7 linked regions of the Homo sapiens genome follow. The protein of the gene in region 7 purifies or fractionates together with the protein of the main gene of each other region. This does not show direct contact. Each region holds a gene or a part of one and is shown on either strand. Other genes may lie near its edges.

What was found.
Region 1: the proteins of UBE2B (region 7) and UBR3 purify together in Homo sapiens (affinity purification with western blotting; 2 studies listed by BioGRID, with this or other methods). This does not show direct contact.
Region 2: the proteins of UBE2B (region 7) and SLF1 purify together in Homo sapiens (affinity purification with mass spectrometry, with the first as the bait; one large-scale study listed by BioGRID). This does not show direct contact.
Region 3: the proteins of UBE2B (region 7) and WAC purify together in Homo sapiens (affinity purification with mass spectrometry, with the first as the bait; one large-scale study listed by BioGRID). This does not show direct contact.
Region 4: the proteins of UBE2B (region 7) and CTR9 purify together in Homo sapiens (pull-down; one large-scale study listed by IntAct). This does not show direct contact.
Region 5: the proteins of UBE2B (region 7) and UNK fractionate together in Homo sapiens (co-fractionation; one large-scale study listed by BioGRID). This does not show direct contact.
Region 6: the proteins of UBE2B (region 7) and COL20A1 purify together in Homo sapiens (affinity purification with mass spectrometry; one large-scale study listed by BioGRID and IntAct). This does not show direct contact.

What each region holds. Positions count from the first base shown.
Region 1 is NC_000002.12:169,949,454-169,952,953, reverse strand, and holds part of UBR3 (E3 ubiquitin-protein ligase UBR3), read right to left. Parts: intron 3,350-3,500; coding exon 2,889-3,349; intron 1-2,888. UniProt on the Homo sapiens protein: E3 ubiquitin-protein ligase which is a component of the N-end rule pathway. Does not bind to proteins bearing specific N-terminal residues that are destabilizing according to the N-end rule, leading to their ubiquitination and subsequent degradation.
Region 2 is NC_000005.10:94,691,669-94,694,894, forward strand, and holds part of SLF1 (SMC5-SMC6 complex localization factor protein 1), read left to right. Parts: intron 1-405; coding exon 406-588; intron 589-888; coding exon of another isoform or gene 889-896; exon of another isoform or gene 897-3,153; intron 3,154-3,162; coding exon 3,163-3,226. UniProt on the Homo sapiens protein: Plays a role in the DNA damage response (DDR) pathway by regulating postreplication repair of UV-damaged DNA and genomic stability maintenance.
Region 3 is NC_000010.11:28,536,118-28,539,617, reverse strand, and holds part of WAC (WW domain-containing adapter protein with coiled-coil), read right to left. Parts: intron 1-3,500.
Region 4 is NC_000011.10:10,777,746-10,780,246, forward strand, and holds the end of CTR9 (RNA polymerase-associated protein CTR9 homolog), read left to right. Parts: intron 1-933; coding exon 934-1,360; 3' UTR 1,361-2,001; downstream 2,002-2,501. UniProt on the Homo sapiens protein: Component of the PAF1 complex (PAF1C) which has multiple functions during transcription by RNA polymerase II and is implicated in regulation of development and maintenance of embryonic stem cell pluripotency.
Region 5 is NC_000017.11:75,812,306-75,815,805, forward strand, and holds part of UNK (RING finger protein unkempt homolog), read left to right. Parts: exon of another isoform or gene 1-55; intron 56-149; coding exon 150-280; intron 281-772; coding exon 773-908; intron 909-1,455; coding exon 1,456-1,573; intron 1,574-2,524; exon of another isoform or gene 2,525-2,584; coding exon of another isoform or gene 2,585-2,590; intron 2,591-2,863; coding exon 2,864-2,948; intron 2,949-3,500. UniProt on the Homo sapiens protein: Sequence-specific RNA-binding protein which plays an important role in the establishment and maintenance of the early morphology of cortical neurons during embryonic development.
Region 6 is NC_000020.11:63,296,186-63,299,685, reverse strand, and holds part of COL20A1 (collagen alpha-1(XX) chain precursor), read right to left. Parts: intron 1,777-3,500; coding exon 1,666-1,776; intron 1-1,665. UniProt on the Homo sapiens protein: Probable collagen protein.
Region 7 is NC_000005.10:134,378,069-134,381,568, reverse strand, and holds part of UBE2B (ubiquitin-conjugating enzyme E2 B), read right to left. Parts: intron 851-3,500; coding exon 761-850; intron 1-760. UniProt on the Homo sapiens protein: E2 ubiquitin-conjugating enzyme that accepts ubiquitin from the ubiquitin-activating enzyme E1 and transfers it to a E3 ubiquitin-protein ligase. In vitro catalyzes 'Lys-11'-, as well as 'Lys-48'- and 'Lys-63'-linked polyubiquitination.

The sequences.
Region 1 (3,500 bases), on a different chromosome or scaffold from region 7:
CTAATTAACAAAAATAACAATCTTACCTCATTTTCAACCTTCTAATTTTGTCAGTAGATTTATTACATTCTAGGCTATTACTAATTCAAACTTAATGAATGGTCATCTGAATTATATGTTACTGAATGTCCTTTCTCCCACGGAAACAAATTTTGTGTTAGTTCTTTATAACTCCAATTTAGGAATTCTCCTAAATTCTTAATCTACCATAAGCTTTTGCATATATTAATATAAATTTTTTATAACAAACTTTTTTTTTTGAGATGGAGTCTCATTCTGTCGCCAGGCTGGAGTGCAGCAGCGCGATCTCAGCTCACTGCAACCTCTGTCTCCCAGGTTCAAGCAATTCTCCTGCCTCAGCCTCCCTAGTAGCTGGGACTACAGGCACACGCCACCACGCCCAGCTAATTTTTATGTTTTTAGTAGAGACGAGGTTTCACCATGTTGGCCAGGATGGTCTTGATCTCCTGACCTTGTGATCCACTCACCTCGGCCTCCCAACAAACTTTTAATTACATCAGAGATGTAGTGTAACTATATATGTGACTAAAATTGCTCCTTATACAGGTACCAACGGATGACCTCCTAACTAACAAATCAAATAGGATGGCCAATCTTATTGAACTCCTGTAGCACTTAACAATTTTGATAAGTTTCTTGCTTTCTGAACTTCCTCTTGTGACTTCTCTAATGCCACTCACCCCAGTTTTTCTCTTACTCTGCTCAGCCATCCCTTCGTCAGTCACCTTTGTAGGTACCCCTTCCTCAGTCATTCCCTTTAATGTTTTTCCCTTAAGTTCTACATTCAGTCTTCTCATTTTCTTACTGTAAACCTTCTCCCATATACAAGGATTTACTACTACCTAGCTGCTCAAATCTGTAGCTCTAAGAATTCTCCCTTAAGTTTTAAACCCTATATCTGACTGGACACCTTCACCTGGGTGTCCCTCTTAAACTTAGTAGCGTCCAGAACTGAACAGATCACTTTTACTAATGAGCCTGGGACCCCTCCTACACTCCATTATCTTGGTAAAAGGAACATTATTCAAGTCAGAAATCAGGGCACCATTCAAGACATCTCCCTCATTTCTCACATCAACCTGATGACTGAGTCTAACAACTTGTACCTGCTAAATATCTCATACACATCTCCTCCTCTCTTTATTATCATCACTGTCTTAGTTCAGACCCTTACCACACCTGCCCCACTAGATGACTAAGTAGCTTGCTCTCCCAATTTCCAGTCTTACCCCACTCTAATCTACCCTCATGTAATTACCCTATATATTATTCCTCACTTAAAATCCTTCCACAGTTTCCCTGTAACCATTTATACCCTGTGCGAGTTAACGATACATGGTTACCTTCTTAGCCTTATGTCCTACTACTCCCATTAACACCCTGTGTACCTAAGATAGTATCTGTTACACTATGTTAACACTACTAACAAACTATCTGTTTACCAGTCTGTCTCTCCATTATAGTATCAATTCCTCGAGGTCAGGAAGTCCAACACCAGACACAGATATGTCTAGAAAACTGCTTGACTGACACCCAATGAATGAGAAACGGATCAATCAAGTAAGATCCATCTTAGGCTTGCTTCCACTGATCATTTAACCCATAACTGCCTATATTTAATTTTAAAAGTAACTAAGAAGATGAAATTATCCAGAAAATACCTCTAAAGTACACTTCAAACTGCTAAATAATGTATTAGTCATACTGCTCACAACAGTAGTCCAGATAACTCTGTTGACAATGATTTTTACCTATATAAAACAGATTGAGATGATAAAGGTCCTAGGTTCTTAAATTAAGATAATATTGATGTGATCTCTTTGGACCCTCCCTAACGGGAAATGTGTACCCTTCCCCTATAATTGTTGCTTTGGTAGACAAATTTGTCTTAAATAATAAAGAAATTAAAACAATGAATATTATTTATAACCTCAGAGAAGTGAGCAATGACTATCTTGAATTTGATCTGAAATCTTTTTTTTAAATGTCCTGGGTCTTTTAGCCTGTGTACACTCATTAGAAGGCATGCTCTTTTTTTTTTTCTTTAATAAACACTGAACCCTTTCCAAGAGTTTGACAATTATGCAGAGTTTCAATCTCTCAAGATTCACCTTGTCATGTTTATGACAGCAGGGTCAGCAATGTTGACAAGGCTCTTGGGAAACAATTTGTGACAATGCACAGTAACACAACTCTTCTGGCAAACAATGTACCACTAAAAAAAAGAACCAAACCATGCTCATAGTCCTTGACCCACAAACCCCACATAACATAGTATATATCTTGAGATTTTAAAAAAATCCCATTTTTTTTTCAAGAAAGTCAAAAGATGAAAAAAAAGTTTATAAATATAATTTAACAACAAATTATAAGCAACCTAAAGATCCAAAAGCTAGAAGCATAAGTTAGTCAGAATGTGTTTTAAAACATCACTTTTTAAAAATCAGCAATCATATATTAATAAAGATTAGAAAAGACCAAAAGAAACTAAAGCAGTTGGATTTTTATTTTGAGAAATATTTTAAATATTTTTAATATTCTCATTTAAAGCTGAACAGTTCAACTTTAACAGTAAGAGAATTATTAGATCCCTACAGCAATAAAAGCAGTAGCAATTTTTCCAAAGAGACACACAGGTTTAAGGTAGTAATTTTACATTGGGGTCAGAAAGTCTCACCTGTCCATCAATAAACTCAATACATCACATGTACAAGCACTGACTATGCTCCATTCCATTTATGTTACAAACTAATCAGCTATGACTGTTCCTGTTAAACATCCAGGTGATTATCCTCAAATGACCAAAAGGAAGAAAATATCAAATTTTCAACTATACACACGTTTAAAACATTAAAAATAAAAATTACCTTTCTTCTTTGTCCAATGTTTTCTTCTCTGCTGCAGTGACTTTTTTAGGTGGTACAGGAGGGGTCACTTTTCTACATATCTCTTCAATGATGCGTTTGTTCATTCTACTTTGCGATGCAGCTTTTAGTAAAATTCTTTCCACGGCAGTTATACCATCTCCATGACTGTATTTAGGAATTTCTGGTTGGATTAAAATTTCTATGTCATCAAGCCAAGGAGGATAGTAGGAGTTTTGTTTTCCTGAGAGTTTGTGGTGAAGTTTAATTAGCAAAGACAATATGCTTTCTTTAATTTCCAAAATGGCTGTAGTTAACTGTGGAGCTGAACCAGGAGCAGACCATTTACTTGAAGTTTTGGGACGAACCACCTGATTTGCTTCACTGCTACTGCGATTGATGATTTCCTGAAATTTCTTTCTACGTTCTGCTACTAAACTGAAAACTTGAGCTGTACCAGAATTCTACCATTAACAAAGAGAAACAAAGAAAAATCAAGAGAAGTTATTTAGCATCATTTTAAAAACATATTAGTACTATATTTTCTAAAGGGAATGCTCAGTTTCATACAAAGATTTATTCAATAGATTTGCTCTTTAAATAAATTTCTCCCTT
Region 2 (3,226 bases), about 40 Mb from region 7:
TCTTTGTGGTCTAGTCCAATGTCTTAATATTTGTGATATTAAACAGTTTTATATCACATTAAGAAAAATTATTTAAGTAAATTTACCTAAGGTATCTTAAAAGTATAAGAAAAATTTCTTAGCAAAGCCAAGAAATTTCTCATATATTGATTTATAACTAATGGTATAAAAACATTTTTTGGTGTCCATATTTTGATAATACCCAACATTAATATTTTAAAATTGTTTTTATTTTAATTTTTTAAGGTAGAAATATGATTACACCCTAGACATTTTTATCACAGCATTCTTTTTGTATATGAAGCACCTAGAAAGTCACACTGATGAGAAAAGTAGAACATCAGTACTTTTCTACCAAAAGTCCTACTTCTGCTGTTTTAAAACTTGCCTTGATTTCTAATTTAGACAATGCTGGCTGGACGCCTTTGCATGAAGCCTGTAACTATGGCAACACAGTGTGTGTCCAGGAAATTTTGCAACGTTGTCCAGAGGTAGATCTGCTCACTCAAGTGGACGGGGTGACTCCTTTGCATGATGCACTGTCAAACGGACATGTAGAAATTGGCAAGCTGCTACTACAGCATGGGGGTGAGTGTGTTTATGCTAAATGGGTTTTGATAAATTATCCAGTTTTTTGATGAATCCTGCAGAGGTAGATAGCATTTTATGTTTAAAATCTGTAAGGAAAGATGCCTTTATTTCATATTAATGAAAAAGTAAGGATAAAAAGTCTCCTAAAACGTAAGCACCTTTTATTATTAGAGATAAAATCCTTTTCATAATGTATATTTGTTTATGTATATATTATTAAGCCTATTTAGGTTCGTGTATGAGAGTCTGTTTTTGAATTGAGTTTGCTGGTTTTAAATATTTATCTTTTTCCTTCAGGTGTGTAATGTCTTTGTGAGCCAGTCATTTCTGAAAGCTTATTGATAAATGGATATAAATGTTCAATTGTGATTACCTGGATTTTTTCATTTCCTGTATGTAACTACAAACTCAATCTTATTTTTAATGAGTCATTTCTGTACAGACTGTAAAAAAATGATATCCTAGAATATTTTTCGTCATTCACATTTTGCAGCCAATTAAGTTAAAGCAGGAGGATTTTCAAATGGTGATAACTGTTATGCAGGGGTTTTGTGAAGGAGGTAACTTGAGCTGAATATTCATCTGCGTTTTTCCTGCTGATTTTTGATCTTTGCTTTCAGCAAGGCCCCACATTATTTCAGTGTCATTCTTCTTATATCTAAACTGAATAATATAAATTTTACAACAAAATGTTCAAAACGGATTGGTGCTTTTAAAAGAAAAAAAGAAAACTGATGACCAGCTTAGAATATGGAAACAAAGATTTGTAGAAATTACTTGTCGTTTTTATTTGTATTAATTTTACATTTAAATTTAACATTATCTTATCCTGTAATTAAAACATTTGATTGTGCATAAAGACAAAAAGCGTATTTTCTTAAGATGTCTTTTTAGTATATATGCATCTAAGGAAGGCTGTATAGCATGGGAGTTTAAGACATTTGGTTATATATAGTCTTCTCCTGCCCCCTAAAGGCCTTAGTGTGTCTGTTTTACTGATATCATTTCATAGTCAATGTTTTTCAGTTCTTCTACCTTGTTTTTTTTAGTATTCTGTGTTTACTAAACCATAAGTTCTACCTCCTTAATGTTTTATTTTTCTACTCAGCCGTGTGTCTGGCATTCAGGCCAATATTTGTTAGGAGCCATTATTGTATTAGGTCCAGCTCTTCAGTAGAGTATGGCATTATACCAACCAATGTGAATTTTTCTAGGGCTCTTAGTGGAGAATAGTAAAGAGATGAGTTTCTCCTCCTAGAAGAGGAAATCTAATTGTTTTTGTTTTTATCAAGGTCCTTTGGCAGTCGTACAGACTTGTTTCTGCCTTAGTCATATTCTGGGTTTGGACCTGTCAAGTGGTTTGACACTTATATTGAAGTAACTGCATTATCTATTCATTGTGAGTCACTCAGCCTCAAGAGCAATAATTTCAAGAATTTATTTATTTCTCTAAAACGTTTGTTTACTTTTGGTATCCTGTGTCCGTAATTTTGTCTTTTTTTTTTTTTTTAAACAGAAGTAACTTGGAACAATTTTTTTGAGATGTTGGCACAGTGAAAAGGAGCCTAATTTTGTTTTAGAATTATCTTCTTTCCATAAATTATACATTAATCATATTATCAATGGTTGATCTTTTATATTAAGTACATTTTATATCTATGCTACTATGTATGTCTGATCAGAGTCATCATTATGAATTTTAGCAGTTATAATCAGTTCTCTCTTTCTGACAATATGATCTATGTTATAATTGTAGGACCTAGTGATTATGTCTGCTAGTACTAAAATCTTTATATCCCCTGTAACGTTTTTATGGCCAAGTGCATAAATAATTATAAGACTTGACTGATGAAGGCAAAAGTACTCCTATACTTTGCTATGTAACCAAATACTGAGTTATGTTTTGCCTTCTCCACATCATCCTTTAGTACTTAGTGGATAAACTCTATCTTTAGTACTTTCTAAGTAGGTAGTTAAATGAGTTTAACTAGTATAGATGGATGAGATCTGAGTTTGATCTAGAAGAATTAATATGTAATTTGTGTGAACCAGTTACCTGTACTAAACATTGAACACAAGCAAGGGTAATATGAAAACTGTTCTCTATCTGTGCAAGGTTTTGTAGTCTTTGCACTGCTAGAATTGTTTATTAGCAATGAAAGGGGCACTACTTTTTCCTCTTGGTGATATTTTGAGATACCCCTGAGGCTCTTGTATAGAATTTATAAGATGAATAATACATTTTTAAGATTTCTTCTGGGAACACTGAAATTCTTATTTTAAAATGACAGTTGATAAAGTTTTATAAAAGTTTTTATTTGTAGTTGTATTTATTATTTATTTAACGGAGGCATGCACGTTTGGGGAAACCTTATTAGGTAATTGACTAGAATTTTTTTAATGTACCTTTATTCGTCTATATATATAGTCAGTTAATTGTGTCGACATGAATTAATACAAAATATGATTGCAAAGAAAGCACTGGATGCTTTGGGAAAAAGGAGAAAAGAGCTGTTAAGCTGCCAAAATAGAAATGTTTTACTTGCAACATTTTGCATTTTCTTTTCACAGGCCCAGTGCTTTTACAACAGAGGAATGCTAAGGGAGAATTGCCCTTGGATTATGTGGTTTCACC
Region 3 (3,500 bases), on a different chromosome or scaffold from region 7:
CACTGCACTCCAGCCTGGGCAACTCTGTCTCCAGAAAAAAAAAAACCAAAAAACAAACCCTAACGATTGTACCTTAAGGTTTTTGCTTTTGGTTACTTTAAACAAGATTGTATGTTTTCAGACAGATCACAGACTATATAAAAATAACTCATTTCACAAAAAAATATTTTAATTATACTCTCACATAACCTATCTTAAATTTACAATAGACATTATTTCCTTTAATAAATCCTAATGGATAAAATCTCTAACTCTAAACTATACACGCTATGTTACAGCAAGTCTTATTTTAACTAGCAAGGTTTTTGGGAATAAAAACCTTCACAATCCCTGATTTCTCACTTTTTATATTGTATCTGCAAGTCCTTTCATACATTACTTCTGAACGAGCATTTTTCAATGAAATCCAAGATGCTAAGAAATCTAGTAATTACTGAAAAATGCTGTGATGCCAGTAAAGCCTAATCCTAAGGTAAACAAACGCACAAGTTCCACATTTAACTTGCTTTGTAAAATGCAAGTTACAAATCATAGCATATAGGTTATTATTAGTAAAGAAAATCATTAAATCTTAAAATGAAAAACTGGGAAATTTGAATTCAGTAGTTCAATGCATATAGTAAGTAACCTGCTGTAATCTTAAGTTTTTTACATGCTTAGAGCTTAGATAATCCAACTCACTTGCATTTGATTTTTGATAATGGTCTTGAATTTATATACATTAATTTTTTTCTTTTTTTTTTTTTTTTTTAAACAGACGGGTCTCACTCTATCAACCCAGGTTAGAGTGTGGTGGCACAACCACAGCTCACTGTTAACCTCAAACTCCTGGGCTCAAGCAATCATCCCACCACACCCAGCTAATCAAAAAAAAAATTTTTTTTTTTTTTAGTAGACACAGGGTCTTGCTATGTTGCCAAGGCTAGTCTCAAACTCCTGGCTTCAAAGGACCTTCCCATCTCAACCTCCCAAGCAACCAGCATTACAGAGATGAGCAGCTGTGCCTGGCTGAATTCTTTTTTTTTTTTTTTTTTTTGAGACAGGGTCTCAATCCGTCTCCCAGGCTGGAGTGCAATGGCACAATCTCAGCTCACTGCAACCTCCACCTCCTGGGTTCAAGTGATTTTCCTGCCTCAGCCTCCCTAGTAGTTGGGATTACAGGCACTCGCCACCGCAACCAGCTAACTTTTGTATTTGTAGTAGAGACAGGGTTTCACCACGTTGGCCAGGCTGGTCTCAAACTCCTGACCTCAGGTGATCTGCCTGCCTCGGCCTCCCAAAGTGCTGAGATTCCGGCGTGAGCCACTGACCCGGCCTGAATTCATTTTTGGATAAAAATCCAAAGGAGTTTATAATGCCTGCAATAAAAATCATACATATACACTTTTAACATCTTAGTGCCAAACACATCATTAGCAATAAAAAATAAACACCAGAAAACAAATTATAATGACTAAATATCTCACTATAAAATGAGGAAAAATCACCATTTTACGTTTTTTGAAGAGAGAATATCAAAGATGTACTCTCAATTCCAGAATGGAGATATACCTCATATTATTATTTCCATATAATATAAAGGAATATGGCAGCCAGGTATGTTAGAGATGGTAGAGACAGGAATGGAATCACAGTATTAGCTGGAAGACTCCAGAAGACGACAATCAGCTAGAAAGAAAATTGGAAAGTGGGGCCTAACTTAGCAAGTGATTAGATCAGAAAAACATCAAGTTTCTTGCAAATGAAGCTAAAGAAACATCAGGAAAGATGCAAATTTTTAAAAACGAAAAGCTAACAAGTACCTGGAGTTCATACAGGTAGAAAAATGAAAAAATCAAAGTGAAGAAAAAATGGGTACAGAAAAAGTAAGTGGCTAAAACACCACTAGCTCTCAAGAGTCAAAGCATTTAAGAATAGCTTCAAGGCCAGGATCACATCTTGACTCCCAGGAGTATCACACAAATGTTGGCACACAGTAGATGCCCCAGGTTTGTTGAATGAATAAGCAACAGAATGTTCTTGGGATTACTTCACCTGTAAAAGAATTGGCTGAGCAAGGTTTGCTGGAAATGATTGAAAGCATTTATAACTGAAAAACTGACTTCTTGCATTTGGGGATAAACTGGATCATAGTCACTAAAATAAGAGCCTATTTGTAAGAAGATGAGGTGCCATATCCTATTTTGTTACAATCACCAAATTTTTCAAAATAAATACAGTATAGTACAACCAGTACCTGCTCTCCAAGAGCTAACATTAGAAATGAAATCCACTATAGAAGAGTGGTTGATAGAGAGTACCATCTCAGGCTTTACATAATACTATGGAAAACTTACCCACAAAACTGATAACTCTAAAAGCTTAATTTTGCAACCCAATAACTTGTAACACTTTAATAATCAAATACACCTGCTACTACTGTTACAAAAATGTGGTTTATCTGCATAAATAGCACTAAGCTATAACTACATTCAATAGAGAACTACTTTCTTCTCATCCAAATTATTCAATCCCAGTGCAATCTTCTGACTGTATTTTCTCAAACCAGTAATTATGTAGAGGAAGCCAATGTTTCTCAGTATATGATCACACTGAATAAAGCTGATTTCTATCCTAGGTGGACAAAAGGGGCAAGATGCAAGGTATTTTTTTTAAAGTAAGCCAAGTATTGAAGAACTAGCTGCCAATAGGGGCAAAAAGTCACATGGTACTTTACTGAGTTTCCTTGGAAGCTTTTAATATTGTAAATCTGCTTAAGATATGTTATCTACTTAAGCAACATGTAGGAGAGAATATAGGTGTCTTTACTGAAATTGCTTTGTTCCTTAATGCATGCTTTTGACATGAAATGTAATTCGGGCAAATTAAGTCTGAAAATAGTTACTGAGAATTGGTTTTGTTTACTTATTCTCAGACTCCTACCACAAAGAGCTTGAGGCAAACTTATAATTGAAGGTACAGGACTGTGCAAAAGAAATCAGACTAACTTTTAAAAAGAATATTTCAATGAACCAGGTATAAAAATCACATCACCAAAACTGGAGAATACTGAAAATGTTTACAACAAAAAGCAAGAATGTATTTTCTAAGTCATAAATAATTTTTTAAATCTGGGAACTATCCTGAAAAAACATAATGAGTTTTTAAATTCATAGTTTATCATTGTAATTAGAAAACAGATTTGAACACCTTAAAAAGTAACAAACTGAAGCAACAATAAGGATCTCAAACTGAAATCTTTAAAAGGTCAAAGTTCCTTTCTTGGAAAAAAGTCCTGCATTTTTCCCATCCTTAAGAAAGCATGTTTTAAACTATATTCATAAATGCATTCCCTTATTATTAAACACTAAAGTCCGCTTTTTTTTTTTTTTTAATGGAGTCTCACTCTAGCACCCAGGCTGGAGTGCAGTGGCACCATCTCAGGCTGACTGCAACCTCCACCAACCAGGTTCAAGTGATTCTCCTACCTTAGCTTCCTGAAGAGCTGGCACTACAGGCGC
Region 4 (2,501 bases), on a different chromosome or scaffold from region 7:
CCCAGGGAAGACCCACAGGTCTTTAATATGTATACAGAAAGAGAGTAATATATTTCACCTCCCTCACCGTTCCTAGACCGAACTCTGTGGGATTCAGTATTCCTTTATTGGAATATCTGTCATGAAAACCAGAACTAAGGAACGTGCCAGAGAAGTGTGCCTGCTCCAAAGGAGCGGTCACCGTGGTTAAGGGAATGTTCTTTCCTCAGAGCCTCCAGGAAGCCAAGACTCTGAGGGTGCTGCCACCATTCTAAGCATAAGCATGACTTCCCCTTTCCTTTCACTTATCAACTGACAAGTAGAGGGGAGAGCTTGGGAGCAAAGGGAAATAAACCAAAGGGCCCCTTTAGCCCCAGTTCCCTATCTTGAGCAAGTCTGGTCATGGTGGAGGGGACCTAGTGCAGTAGCAAATCTTAGGACAGGAATAATGACCTCACTCTTCAGGTACCTGTTAGCACCGATGGCAATAGGACAGGGAAATGTCCTTTGAAACCCTTTTCTGCCTTTGGAAAAGGGTTAATTCTTCAAAGTCTTCAAGCCAGTTGAGATCCTGGATTTCACCTTTGTTGCTGTTAATTTGTGTACAGAGATAAACAAATGTATCCCTTCCTTTTCATAATTTTATATATGAAATTGGGAAATGCTTCATTCTGATGAAAAGTGTCCAGTGAGTCACCATCCCTGTTTATATTTTGACTTATAGCTAAAGTGCCTTATCTTTTTTTCCTTTTTAAACCTTTTTGAGTTGTGAAATATATCACATTTACAGAATAGTACACAAAACAAGTATCACAGAATGATACCTGTGTAACCACTATTTAGGTCAAGAAATAGAATATTAAATGCCCTTCTGTTTTAAAAGCACATTGTCTGCTCATCAAGGCCCCAGTTAGCCAGAATCCTCAGCTTCTAACCAATGATCATCTTTGCCAGACATCCCAGGAACAGCAACAGCAACAGTGACTCAGACGAGGACGAACAACGAAAGAAATGTGCCTCATCAGAGAGTGATTCCGATGAGAACCAGAACAAGTCTGGCAGCGAGGCCGGCAGTCCCCGGAGGCCACGAAGACAGCGGTCAGATCAGGACTCAGACAGTGACCAGCCATCCAGAAAGAGAAGGCCCTCCGGTTCTGAGCAGTCTGACAATGAATCTGTGCAGTCAGGGAGAAGCCACTCAGGAGTTTCTGAGAACGACTCTCGCCCAGCTTCTCCAAGTGCCGAATCAGATCACGAATCGGAGAGAGGATCTGATAATGAGGGTTCTGGCCAAGGCTCTGGAAATGAATCGGAACCAGAGGGATCCAACAATGAGGCCTCAGATAGAGGCTCAGAACATGGGTCAGATGATAGTGACTAGGTTTTATTTCATCAATAAGCTTCATCTCTGGAGGAAACTTTTTTAATATATGAAAGCTGTGATAAAAATGTTTCAGATGTTTAGTCAATTGTGAAATTTTTCTTAAGGCAATTTTCTTTTCTATCAGTTTGTATATTACTAAGCCCCAAGAGACATTTCCTGTGCTAGAGTCCAATATTTGAGTCTCTCGTGCAAATGAGACTATTCTTTGTGGTACAATTCCACCTATCATATGTGAAAACTGCAGTAAAAATAAACCCAGATGCTAAATCATTCCTACAAAGGTTTGACTGAAACTGTGGCAGATGTCTCATCTTCTTTATATGTTAAGCAGCATACTCTTCTGATTTTTATTGCAATCTTTTACCAAGTGGTGCACAAACTTGGTATTGATGTCTTTATTCCATTTTGAGTTTAGATTGAGAATATTTTTATTTTCTGAAGGCAGAGATATCTACTGTATAATTGCACCAAAGTACATTTGAAAGGAAGGTTTTCAATAGTGTAATACTGCAGCGATGTAGATAAAATCACAAATGTATAATGTGTTAGGTTGAATAAGGTGTGGAAAATGCTTTTCTGTTAGTAGAATGCAAAAACCTACCTAAGCCACATAATAATAAAATTCTTTTACCAACTTTTATGGGTAACTTCGTGTCTTTTTTTGTTCGATATATTTGTGCATGGCAGTGTAGCATAAATTATGCAAATATTTGAAAAATCCTACATTAAGCCTCAAGACTTTTATAATTCTTACAGATTCGTGGAGTGTTTATTTTAAAGATGCAAGAAAACTAAGGTACCAGCATGTATTTTTATTTTCAGTAATTCAGTAATTAACACTAATATTTTTATGTAGTGGTTTGTAAGAGCTTTAATTATTGTAGTCAACAAGTATTATTAAATGTGCTATATTAGCCATTGAGGTGAGAATGCAGAGATAAAGTTCCCTTCTTGTCTTCAAAAATTGAGTAAAGATAAATTTGTTGTTCCTGTGGTGTGAGAAATAGGGTGATGATGTTTGCACAGGTTGTGGGAGCAAAAAGGAGGTTGGAAGAAGCAGTGAAGACAAGGTTTCTTGAAGGACAGGAGTCCTGAGATGACTCAGCCTGAGCCAGGGCTCCTGCCTATACCTCAGGAT
Region 5 (3,500 bases), on a different chromosome or scaffold from region 7:
CTGGGCTGATGGCAGTAGGCTGGGGTCCAGGGCAGGGGCCTGGCGGCTAATGATGGTGAGTACCTCAGACTGCAGTGGAGGGCTGGCACTCTGGTTCTTGCCCCCTCATGCCCCCTCTCCACCCTCTCTGTTCTTTCCTCTCCTCCCAGGGAGCTTCAGGCCATGGAGGCCTTGCAGAATGGCCAGACCACGGTAGAGGGGAGCATAGAGGGCCAGTCGGCTGGGGCTGCGAGCCATGCCATGATAGAAAAGATCCTCAGCGAGGAGCCTCGGTGGCAAGGTACAGGCATCCACACCTCGGCCGCGCCCTCCCTATAATCCTGCTCATAGCTGCCCTGGGGATTTGGCTCACCACCACCTACTGCCTGCTCTAGCCGAGGCCCCGACCTGGCCCGCATCCCACCCTACACCCACCATTCAAAAGGCGCCTCTAGGGGCGTTTTCCCTGACACATCATGTTCCCAAGATCCCTCCAGGCTTTCACATGTGCACAGGCACGTACATAAGCGCACATGCAAATGTTTTCCGCCCTGCAAGAGTGCCCTTTCACCCTGTGAGCTGTGAGTGTCTCTCTGATGGACAGCATCTGTTGTCCTTGCTGCACCTGGGGCTGTCCCATGGCCTGGGAGGAGGGGCCCTACTCACATCTGGCAGGGGCCTCCTGTCTTGAACTCCTTCCCAGTGGCTTCTCCTTCCCTCCACTCCAGTCCTGCTAGTCTTGGGGTGCTCCAGCTCCTCTCACCTGACCCCTGCCCTCTGGCCCCCTGTGCAGAGACTGCTTATGTGCTGGGGAACTATAAGACGGAGCCTTGCAAGAAGCCCCCGCGGCTGTGCCGCCAAGGCTATGCCTGTCCCTACTACCACAACAGCAAGGACCGGCGGCGGAGCCCCCGGAAGCACAAATACAGGTCCTTAGGCCCCAGGAGGCCAGCCACGGGAGGGAGGAGTGGCAGGGAAGGGGTCAGGCAGAGGCTGCTCCCACTGGCTCTCCGGGAGGAGGGGAGGCTGGTCCTGGGGATGACAGGATCGCAAGCCCAGGGCCCAGGGGAGGGCATAGTGAGGATAGCTGGACAGTAGGAGCCCAGCTTCACCTCCTGCATGAATGAGGACCCTGGTCAGACCGTCTCTGAGGCTCCACCGCTCCTGATCCTGAGGGGAATGTGTTGAATGAGGACCAGGCCACAGCGTGGACAGTGTGGTTGTAGCTCCAGCCTGACCCTACTTGGGCTAGTGGGAGGGCCTGGCTGAGGGGAATCAAACAGTATCCTTTGTGGTGATTCGGCCAGGCTGGGTCAGAGAAAGAGCTTGGCTTGTGGCACCAGCAAGGCCCTGACTCTGCAGCTGGTCTTTTCCATTTCTGTGCTCATGCCTATGAGGCTGGGTCCAGGTGGCACCTGCTAGGCTCCGATCTCACCTTCTCCTTTCTCCATCTGACCCCACCCTCTTGTTGGCCAGGTCGTCTCCATGTCCAAACGTCAAGCACGGGGATGAGTGGGGAGACCCTGGCAAGTGTGAGAACGGAGACGCCTGCCAGTACTGCCACACCCGCACCGAGCAGCAGTTCCACCCCGAGGTGGGCCCCACAGCAGGGTGGGGGGGTGGCTTTGGGAAGTAAGGAGAGAGGCAGGCAGGATCAGTGGAGATGTTGGCAGAACCCATCCTGATGCCATCCTGGAAGAGGGACTTGTGGCCACCAGCTCTCCCCTGGCAGTGCCTAGAGGATCCCTGCATGCTGAATTTGGCATCTTCTCCTATTCTGAGCCCACGCTCACCAAGCAGCCCTCTGCTTCCAGTTCTGTGTCCCCCAGGCCTCCTGACAGGGCAGGTGTAGATGGAGTGTGGCGACCTGGCCACTCTGGGCTTTCCACCACTCATGGTGCTTGTAATCCAGTGACATCAGGATTGAAAAAATAGGGCCAGGCACGGTGGCTTATGCCTATAATTCCAGCACTCTGGGAGGCCGAGGTGGGTGCATCACTTGAGGTCAGGAGTTTGAGACTACCCTGCAACATGCTATCTCTACTAAATGTACAAAAATTAGCCAGATTTGGTGGTGAGCGCCTGTAACCCCAGCTACTCGGGAGGCTGAGGTGGGAGGATCGCTTGAACCCGGGAGGCGGAAGTTGCAGTGAGCCAAGATCGCACCACTGCACTCCAGCCTGGGTGACAGAGCGAGACTCCATCAAAAAAAAAAAAAAAAAAAAAAGGATTGAAAAAAAGTAAGCTCCTTCCTGTTGCCCTGTCTCCTATCAGGGCCTAGATTATCAGCAACCTCCCTAACACAGTTCCCTTGCCCTCTGGCCCCAAGAGGTAGCCTGGGCCATATCTGTGTGCCTAGGTCTTGTCTGGGGTTCAGAGAGGCACCTGCAGTCCCTGCCCTTGGTGTTCCATGGAAGCCAGGACACCCTGAGGTAGACACGCGGACAGAAACTACCTTATGTAGCTGCAGACAGCAGAGTGGAAGGTTACTTATATAGGTCACAACCCAGGGTATCCTGACAGGGTTCACATTGGCAGGGGTAGTTGCCTGAGATTGTGGCTCCCTTAATGCCCAGGAGGCACGCTTGGAGGCACAGACCTGGCCATGCCCGTGAGTGGAGAGTCACTGGGGGATCCCTTTGGGAGGGCTGGTGGGACCTGTGGCCCCAGAACGGAGGCTGTCAGTGACAATGGGGAGTGGTGGTGGGCTGCCTCAGGAGTTTGAGTAAGAAGCTGGTAGGGAGAGACATAGTGGAGGGGAGGGGAGGGGCCGGGAACACAGGGCAAGAGATGACTAAGCCAGCGCACTCATGCTGGAGGAAGGGGAGCCTGCCCGGCCTTCCCTCAGGGCCTGAGCCTGACTTGCCTGTGCTCTGCCCTCCAGATCTACAAGTCCACCAAGTGCAACGACATGCAGCAGTCGGGCAGCTGTCCCCGAGGACCCTTCTGCGCCTTTGCCCACGTAGAACGTATGCTGTTCCCATTGCCCCGGGGCAGTGCCCTCTCCCACCCCTCCCTCGCCTGGCTAGCTCAGGCTTAGGCCGGGGATGGCCCCTGGCAGTATGCCCTGCACAGGAGTTCTGGCCTGCCAGCAGCAGGCCTTGTCCCCACTGGAAGCTCCATTCCCCCACCTTTCTGGAAGTAGCCTTGAAGGCCTAGAGCTTCCAAAGTAGTGAGATAGAGACTGCAGGGATTGTCCGCCTGGTTGAGCACTCATGGTTCCAGGGAGGGTTGAGGCACTGTGCCTCCCATGGCTGACTTGGCAAATCCCACCAGCCACCCCATGTCATACCCATGACAGACATCACTAATGGAACATGGAGCTCTTCTCTGCTGAGTCCTGCTCAGGCCTCTAGAGCAGAGCTAGCCAGTCAGAATATAGTGCAATCCCCATATGTCATTTTAAAGTTAAAATATTTAAGCATGTTAACAAAAATAGCAAAATATGAAAATAAGCTGGGCATGGTGGCACACGCCTGTAATCCCAACTACTCGGGAGGCTGAGGCATGAGAATCACTTG
Region 6 (3,500 bases), on a different chromosome or scaffold from region 7:
CTTACGTAGGAACAGCACAGGACTGAACCTGATAAGGTCCATCTATCTGGAAAAGGCAAAACAGAAAACAGCTCAGTGGTTACGGGCACTGGGCTAAGGGCTGACCTTGGGGTAACAGAACTGTTCTCTACATCAATTGTGATAGCGGCTACAGGATTGAATTCATGTGATAAATACAAATCACAGACCTCTTCTCAAAAGGGTGAAGATTTCTGCACGTAAATTACAGCTCCACAAAGAAACACAGGATACCACTGAACACCCACCAGAGTAGCTCCAGTCAGGCTGCCAAGCGTTGGTTGCCAAGGGTGTCATGCAACGGAAGCAATCATACAGTGTTGACGGGAGTATACACTGGCACGACCCCTTTGGAAAATAGTTCAACATTTTCTACTAACGTTGAAACTATGCACACACTGTGGCACTTCCACTCCTGGGTTTACACCCAGAACAGGCGCACGGACACCAGAAACACACGCGGGATCCCTCACACGGCGTCTACACAACAGCCAACCTGGACACAAGCCACATGTCCATCAATAGCAGAAGAGATCACACAGGGGAATACTATACAGCAAAGAAAATGGACGGCTGTTACACACCACGGGGCAAACCTCACAAAATGCCCACCAAAGACACAGACATGAGGGAGTCGCCATGGTGTGATTCCACTTAGAGAATGTTCTGAAACAGGCAAACTAGTCCATGCTGTTGGAGGCGGCCGTCCAGGGAGCAGGGGAGGGTGGACGTTGGCAAGGGCACCGGGGCACCCGGGACGGTCGTTTTCCACCCCAGGAGGGGTTTGAGTTGGCCACCCCACAGTGCTGATTCATACAGTTAGCATTTATGCCTGTGTGCTTTTCCATCTGAGTTTTGAAAAGCTTTAAAATTAGCACCCATTGTCAGGTTAGGACTGTTCCTGCTCTAGGAACAGGGTTCCCTGAAAAGGTGTCCTCAAGGCCCTGCTCCTGGAAACAAGGATTAACGCGTGGGGAGCAGGTGCTTCTGGGGTTCGCTGTGCGGAGTCCAGGCTGTTCTGAATGCCCCTGACGCATTGAGACTCGTTCTGAGGAGGGAGTCGTTTCTTTAAAAAATATGGACCGGGCATGGTGGTTCACGCCTGTAATCCCAGCACTGTGAGAGGCTGAGGGGGGCGGATCTCCTGAGCCCAGTTCAAGACCAGCCTGGGCAACATGGTGAAACCTCTTCTCCACAAAAAATACAAAAATTAGCCAGGAGTGGTGGCACGCACCTGTACTCCCAGCTACACAGGAGGCTGAGGTGGGAGGATCTCCTGAGCTCGGGAGATTGAGGCTGCGGGGAGCTGTGATCGCACCACTGCACTCCAGTCTGGGCAACACAGCAAGACCCTGCCTTTAAAAAAAATTAAAAATTGAAATTAAAAATCAAAAAAATTAAAAGTATGTACTGAATGCCTTCTGCAGGGGCTGCGTGCCAGGGACAGAGGAGCCCCATTCCCTCTTCCATGTCATATGTGACGGGGGAAAGGAATGTGGGTCAGCAGAGACCAAGGCCAGAGAGGTGCTGACACTAAGGGGCTGGTGGGAGGGATGCTGTGGGCCTGAGTGGTGGCTGCGGCCACCACACTGACTGTCCTCGGCACGTGCTAATGGGGAAGGGGGCCTGGGAGGGGCAGGTCCTCACCTGCCATGGGCTTCACCTGCACCAGGTAGCCGAGGCCGCTCCCCTCCGACTCTCTCCACTTCATCTGCAGCCGGTCCTCAGGCAGCACAGCCAGCCTCAGGAGACCGCTTGCTACAGAAACAGGACATAGTGGTCAGGACTGACCTGGCCTCCCCATCCACCTAATCAGCTGTGGGGGTACAGGCATCCTGCCCTCAGCATTTGGGAGGAACACAGTCCTATCCCGGGGGACCCCGAAGAGACAGAAGCCCACCCAGGGTGTCTGAGGCGGACTCAGCCCCACTTGGGGATACGAGGCCTCGCCTGGGCGCTGAGGAGAACCCGGCCCTCCCCGGGGTCCGCAGTCACAGGGCCACCCTGGTAGCTTTGGTGAGAGGGAGTCCAGTCCCACCCAGGGAGGCCCCAGCCTGGCTCTCCGGGGGTCCTCCCACCAGGAAGAGGCTCAGGCCCATGTCTGGGAGGACAGCAACCACCCCACTGATGATCGGAGGCCCCGAGCCAACACAGCAGCTGGCAACCTGCCCAGGGCCCTGAGCTGAGTCCCCTGAGCTGGGGCCCCTGGGCTGAGTCCCCGGGCTGGGTCCCCTGAGCTAAGTCCCCTGGGCTGGGGCCCCTGGGCTGAGTCCCCTGGGCTGGGTCCCCTGAGCTGAGTCCCCTGAGCTGGGTCCCCTGGGCTGGGTCCCCTGAGCTAAGTCCCCTGAGCTGGGGCCCCTGGGCTGAGTCCCCAGGCTGGGTCCCCTGAGCTAAGTCCCCTGGGCTGGGGCCCCTGGGCTGAGTCCCCTGGGCTGGGTCCCCAGGACAAGTGGCCATGCAGCTGCAGACCCCTAGCTGCCAAGGTCACTGCCAGGTGCACGTGCCGCCTCAGTGGGGAGTGTGGGTGCAGAATCCCACACTGGAAGTGTGTGCACATTGGCACGTGTGTGCACGTTGGTACATGTGTGCGTCCATGCCAAGACGAGGCTGCCTCCCGCGATGGGGGATGGGTGTCCAGGCCATCTGAGAGGAAGAGGGGGCGGCAGGGGCCTGGCCAACCTCCCAGGGCTCTGGAGAGGGTTGGTGCCCCCTGAAAGCTTCCGGGGCTCTGCAGTAGGGGCAGCTATTTTTGGAAAATGGGGACAGAGATGGGCTTCTTTGGGCTGCCCCCCGGAAAGCTGGGGCTCGGGGGGAAGAGCAGGGGCTGGGGGGCACTGGGGCAGACACAATGACCCATTCAGAGCAGGCAGCAGCTGGGCCGGGTCTCCGGATGGGGCTGAAAGGCAGGAATGTGTGGGGGATGAGGAGGGGGCTCTGAAGGCCAGCTGTGAGCAGGGCCCCTCCCGCAGCCCCTGCTTGTGAAGAGCCTTCTGTTGCTCCACTCTGCCTGAGAACGTCAGGGACCCCTTCCCCAGCTCCCTGCTGGAGGACAGCACTGTTGGGGCCTGAGCAGGGCACTGGGCAGACAGCGGCTGGTGGGAAGGGCCCCACCCAGGACCACGCTCCCCTCCCTGGACTGTGGCCGCACCCAGCCTGGGCCATCCTGGGAAGGGCTGCCCCAGCGTGTGGGCTCCCACCCGTCCTGGGCTGGACTCAGTGCCCCCAGCCCACCTGGCTGTCCTCAGGGACTCAATGGCCCCCGAAAGGCCCTTGTGAGGGGTGGCCCCATCATGCTGAATCCTGAACTAGATAGAACTAGATTTGCCTTCGCCTAAACTCAAGTTGTTTCTGTAGAAGCAACTTACTGATTTGGCTCAAATTGACAGTGCAAGCTTCTTTCAAACTGAAATCTCAGCCCCCACTGGCCCCAGGGCAGGGTTACCCTGTCTGAGCTGAGGGGACCAAGGCACCTGCTCATGCAA
Region 7 (3,500 bases):
TGGAAAAAATGGCCCATTCCTGTAATCACAGTGCTTTGGGAGGTCAAAGTGGGAGGACTGCTTGAGGCTAGGAGTTCAAGGACCAGCCTGGGCAACACACAGAGACTTTGTGTCTACAAAAAAGAAAAAGAAAACAAACAAAAAAATTAGCTGGGCATGGTGGTCCACACCTGTCGTCCCAGCTAGTTAGGAGTCTGAGGCAGGAGGATTACTTGAACCCAGGAGTTTGAGGTAACAGTGAACTGTGACTGTACCACTGCACTCCAGCAGGGGTGACAGAGTATAACTTTGTCTCTGAAGAAATAAGAAACAAACCAAAAATCCACAACAAACCCAGCACTTTGGGAGGCCAAGGTGGGCAGATCACAAGGTCAGGAGATCGAGACCATCCTGGCTAACATGGTGAAACCCCGTCTCTACTAAAAATATAAAAAATTAGCCAGGCGTGGTGGTGGACGCCTGTAGTCCCAGCTACTCACAAGGCTGAGGCAGGAGAATGGCGTGAACCCGGGAGGCGGAGCTTGCAGTGAGCCGAGATCGCGCCACTGCACTCCAGCCTGGGCGACAGAGCGAGACTCCGTCTCAAAAAAAAAAAAAAAAAAAAAAAAAAAAATCCACAACAAAATACGTGGCTCACATGGACATGGAAGCAACACCTACAAGTGAGCCCTAACAGTAAAAAGTAAGGTGAAAGAGCTAAAAGGAGGGAAACAACTCTTTTCCCCACTATCATCTGCAAAATCTATAAAATGCTACTTACCATTTGGATGAAACATTTTGGATAAAAACCTAACAGTTGGTGGTTTATTTGGATATTCTTCAGAAAATTCTATTACTAGTTTAAAAGTACCTAGAGAGAAAACAAAATAATTATAGTAAAGACAAGCACGACTTTTTAATCTCTTCATCAGTTCTCAACTGCATACTGGTTTTTGTACAACCACATAAAAGTTAGTATGTCAACGTTGGTTCGGCATACAAAACATCCTAAATATACTCTATTTATGTTAGAATGGTAACACGCAGCATTGGCAAGCGGTTGGGGAACAAGCACATTCATGTTGCTATTGGTGGGAGTGTTAACTGTCATATTTTTGGAAGGCAACTAGGCCCTAGCTACCAAGATTTAAAATGCATATTTGAAGAACTACAAATAGTTTATTATAGCTTAGAATGGGAGTTGGTTAAAGGATTTTGAGAGGGTCTGACTACCACATGGCAAAGGACCCTCCCAGGAGGTGGAGGTTGCAGTGAGCCCAGATCATGCCGCTATGCTCTGGCATGGGTGACAAAGCAAGACTCCGTCTCACACACACAAAAAAACTTTAACTCAGAAAATCTTCATTAAAAATAACTGTAGCCAGGTGGGGTGGCTCACGCCTGTAATTCCAGCACTTTGGGAGGCTAAGGTGGGCGGATCACCTGAGGTCAGGAGTTGAGACTAGCCTGGCCAACGTGGTCAAACTCCACCTCTACTAAAAGTACAAAAATGAGCTGGGTATGGGGGTGCCTGTAATCTCAGCTACTCAGGAGGGTGAGGCAAGAGAATTGCTTGAACCTGGGAGGCGGAGGTTGCTGTGAGCAGAGATCGCGCCATTGCACTCTAGTCTGGGTGACAAGAGCAAGACTCTGTCTCCAAAAAAAAAAGGTAGGTTAAACTGCAAACCCATTACACAGAATATAAATTAAAATTATATTTCTCCCCAAGTTGGTGATAAGTGTAAGCAATGTTTTACATATTTGCAACTGTCTCTTTAATGACTGGCTTAACAGAAGATAGCTGGATTCTCTTATCTGCTTCTGCACTCCATCTATTACAATACCGTTTAGTTTAAGTACATGAAGAAAATCTGGCCTCACACAAATATGTACTTGAAAAAAGGAGTACTTTCTTTCTTTCTTCCTTTTTTTTTTTTTTTTTTGTTGAGACAGAGTCTCACTGTTGCCCAGGCTGGAGTGCAATGGCACCATCTCAGCTTACTGCAGCCTCCGTCTCCTGGGTTCAAGCAATTCTCCTGCCTCAGCCTCTGGGGTAGCTGAGATTACAGGCACGTGCCATCCCGCCTGGCTCATTTTTGTATTTTTAGTAGAGACGACGTTTCACCATGTTGGCCAGGCTGGTCTTGAACTCCTGACCTCAGGTGATCTGCCCACCTTGGCCTCCCAAAGTGCTGGGATTACAGGCATGAACCACTGCACCCAGCAAAAAAAGTAGTATTTGAATAGCTTTTTCAGGTGACTGTAGCTATTCTGTTTTGATATTATACCAAAGAAGAAATGGTAGTTCTTTTAAAGGTTTGCTGCAATATAGAATCTGAAATTATTAGTCAACTTTTTGTACTCAGTTACATTAAAATCTGTTCACTTCACATACGTGTTTTACCCATTCATGGTTTTGTATTATTATTCATGGGACATCTGCAAAATATTGGGTGACTCGAGTTTACAGATCCTCCAAATGTTGCCATATTCCATTATATACTATCAAAAAAATCACAACAGGTAACACTACCCACTAATCTCATCAAAAAGTAAGTATCAGGAAGCTGTTATTTTATCAACAGCAACAAATATCTTCAGTTGCTATCCTTAACCTAACAACCCACTTAGATCCCCCCACTGTTTTTTTTTTTTTTTTTTGAGATGGAGTCTTGCTCTGTTGTCCAGGCTAGGGTGCAATGGTGCGATCTTGGCGCACTGCAACCTCTGCCTCCCAGGTTCAAGCAATTCTCCTGCCTCAGTCTCCCGAGTAGCTGGGATTACAGGTGCCCGCCACCACACCGAGCTTATTACATTACTTCTGAGAATATGTCTGCCATATATTCAAACCTGAATAACCACAGCTTGTCTGTATTTTCAAGTAAAAAATGTTCCATGAAAAAAAGTCATTCAAATTGCAACTCAAACAACTGTAGAAGTGCTTTTCTTCCAGACAACTATCATACTATGACATGCAGAAGTGCTTTGTTCATACATTCTACTTCATATCATACAGAATATTAAAAAGACAGATACTCGGCTGGGTGTGGCTCATGCCTCAGCACTTCGGGTGGCCAAGGTGGGCAGATCACCTGAGGTCAGGAGTTTAAGGCCCCAGCCTGGCCAACATGGTGAAACCCCATCTCTACTAAAAATACAAAAATTAGCCGGGCATGGTAGCACATGTCTGTAATCCCAGCTACTTGGAAGGCTGAGGCACGAGAATCACTTGAACCTCGGAGGCGGAGGCTTCAGTGAGCCAAGATTGCGCCTCTGCACTCCAGCCTGGGTGAGAGAGCGAGACAAAAAACAAAAAACAAACAAAAAAAACCCACATAGATACTCAAGGGTCCAGAGCTTCCTAATACTAATAAAAATGTCTTTAAATTAAGAAATTAAGAAAAATTGGTAACTTTTTTAAAGACAAGGTCTCACTCTGTCACCCAGGCTGGAGCTCAGTGGCTCCACCAGGGCTCACTGCAGCCTTGACCTCTTGGGCTCAGGTAATCCTCCCAAGTAGC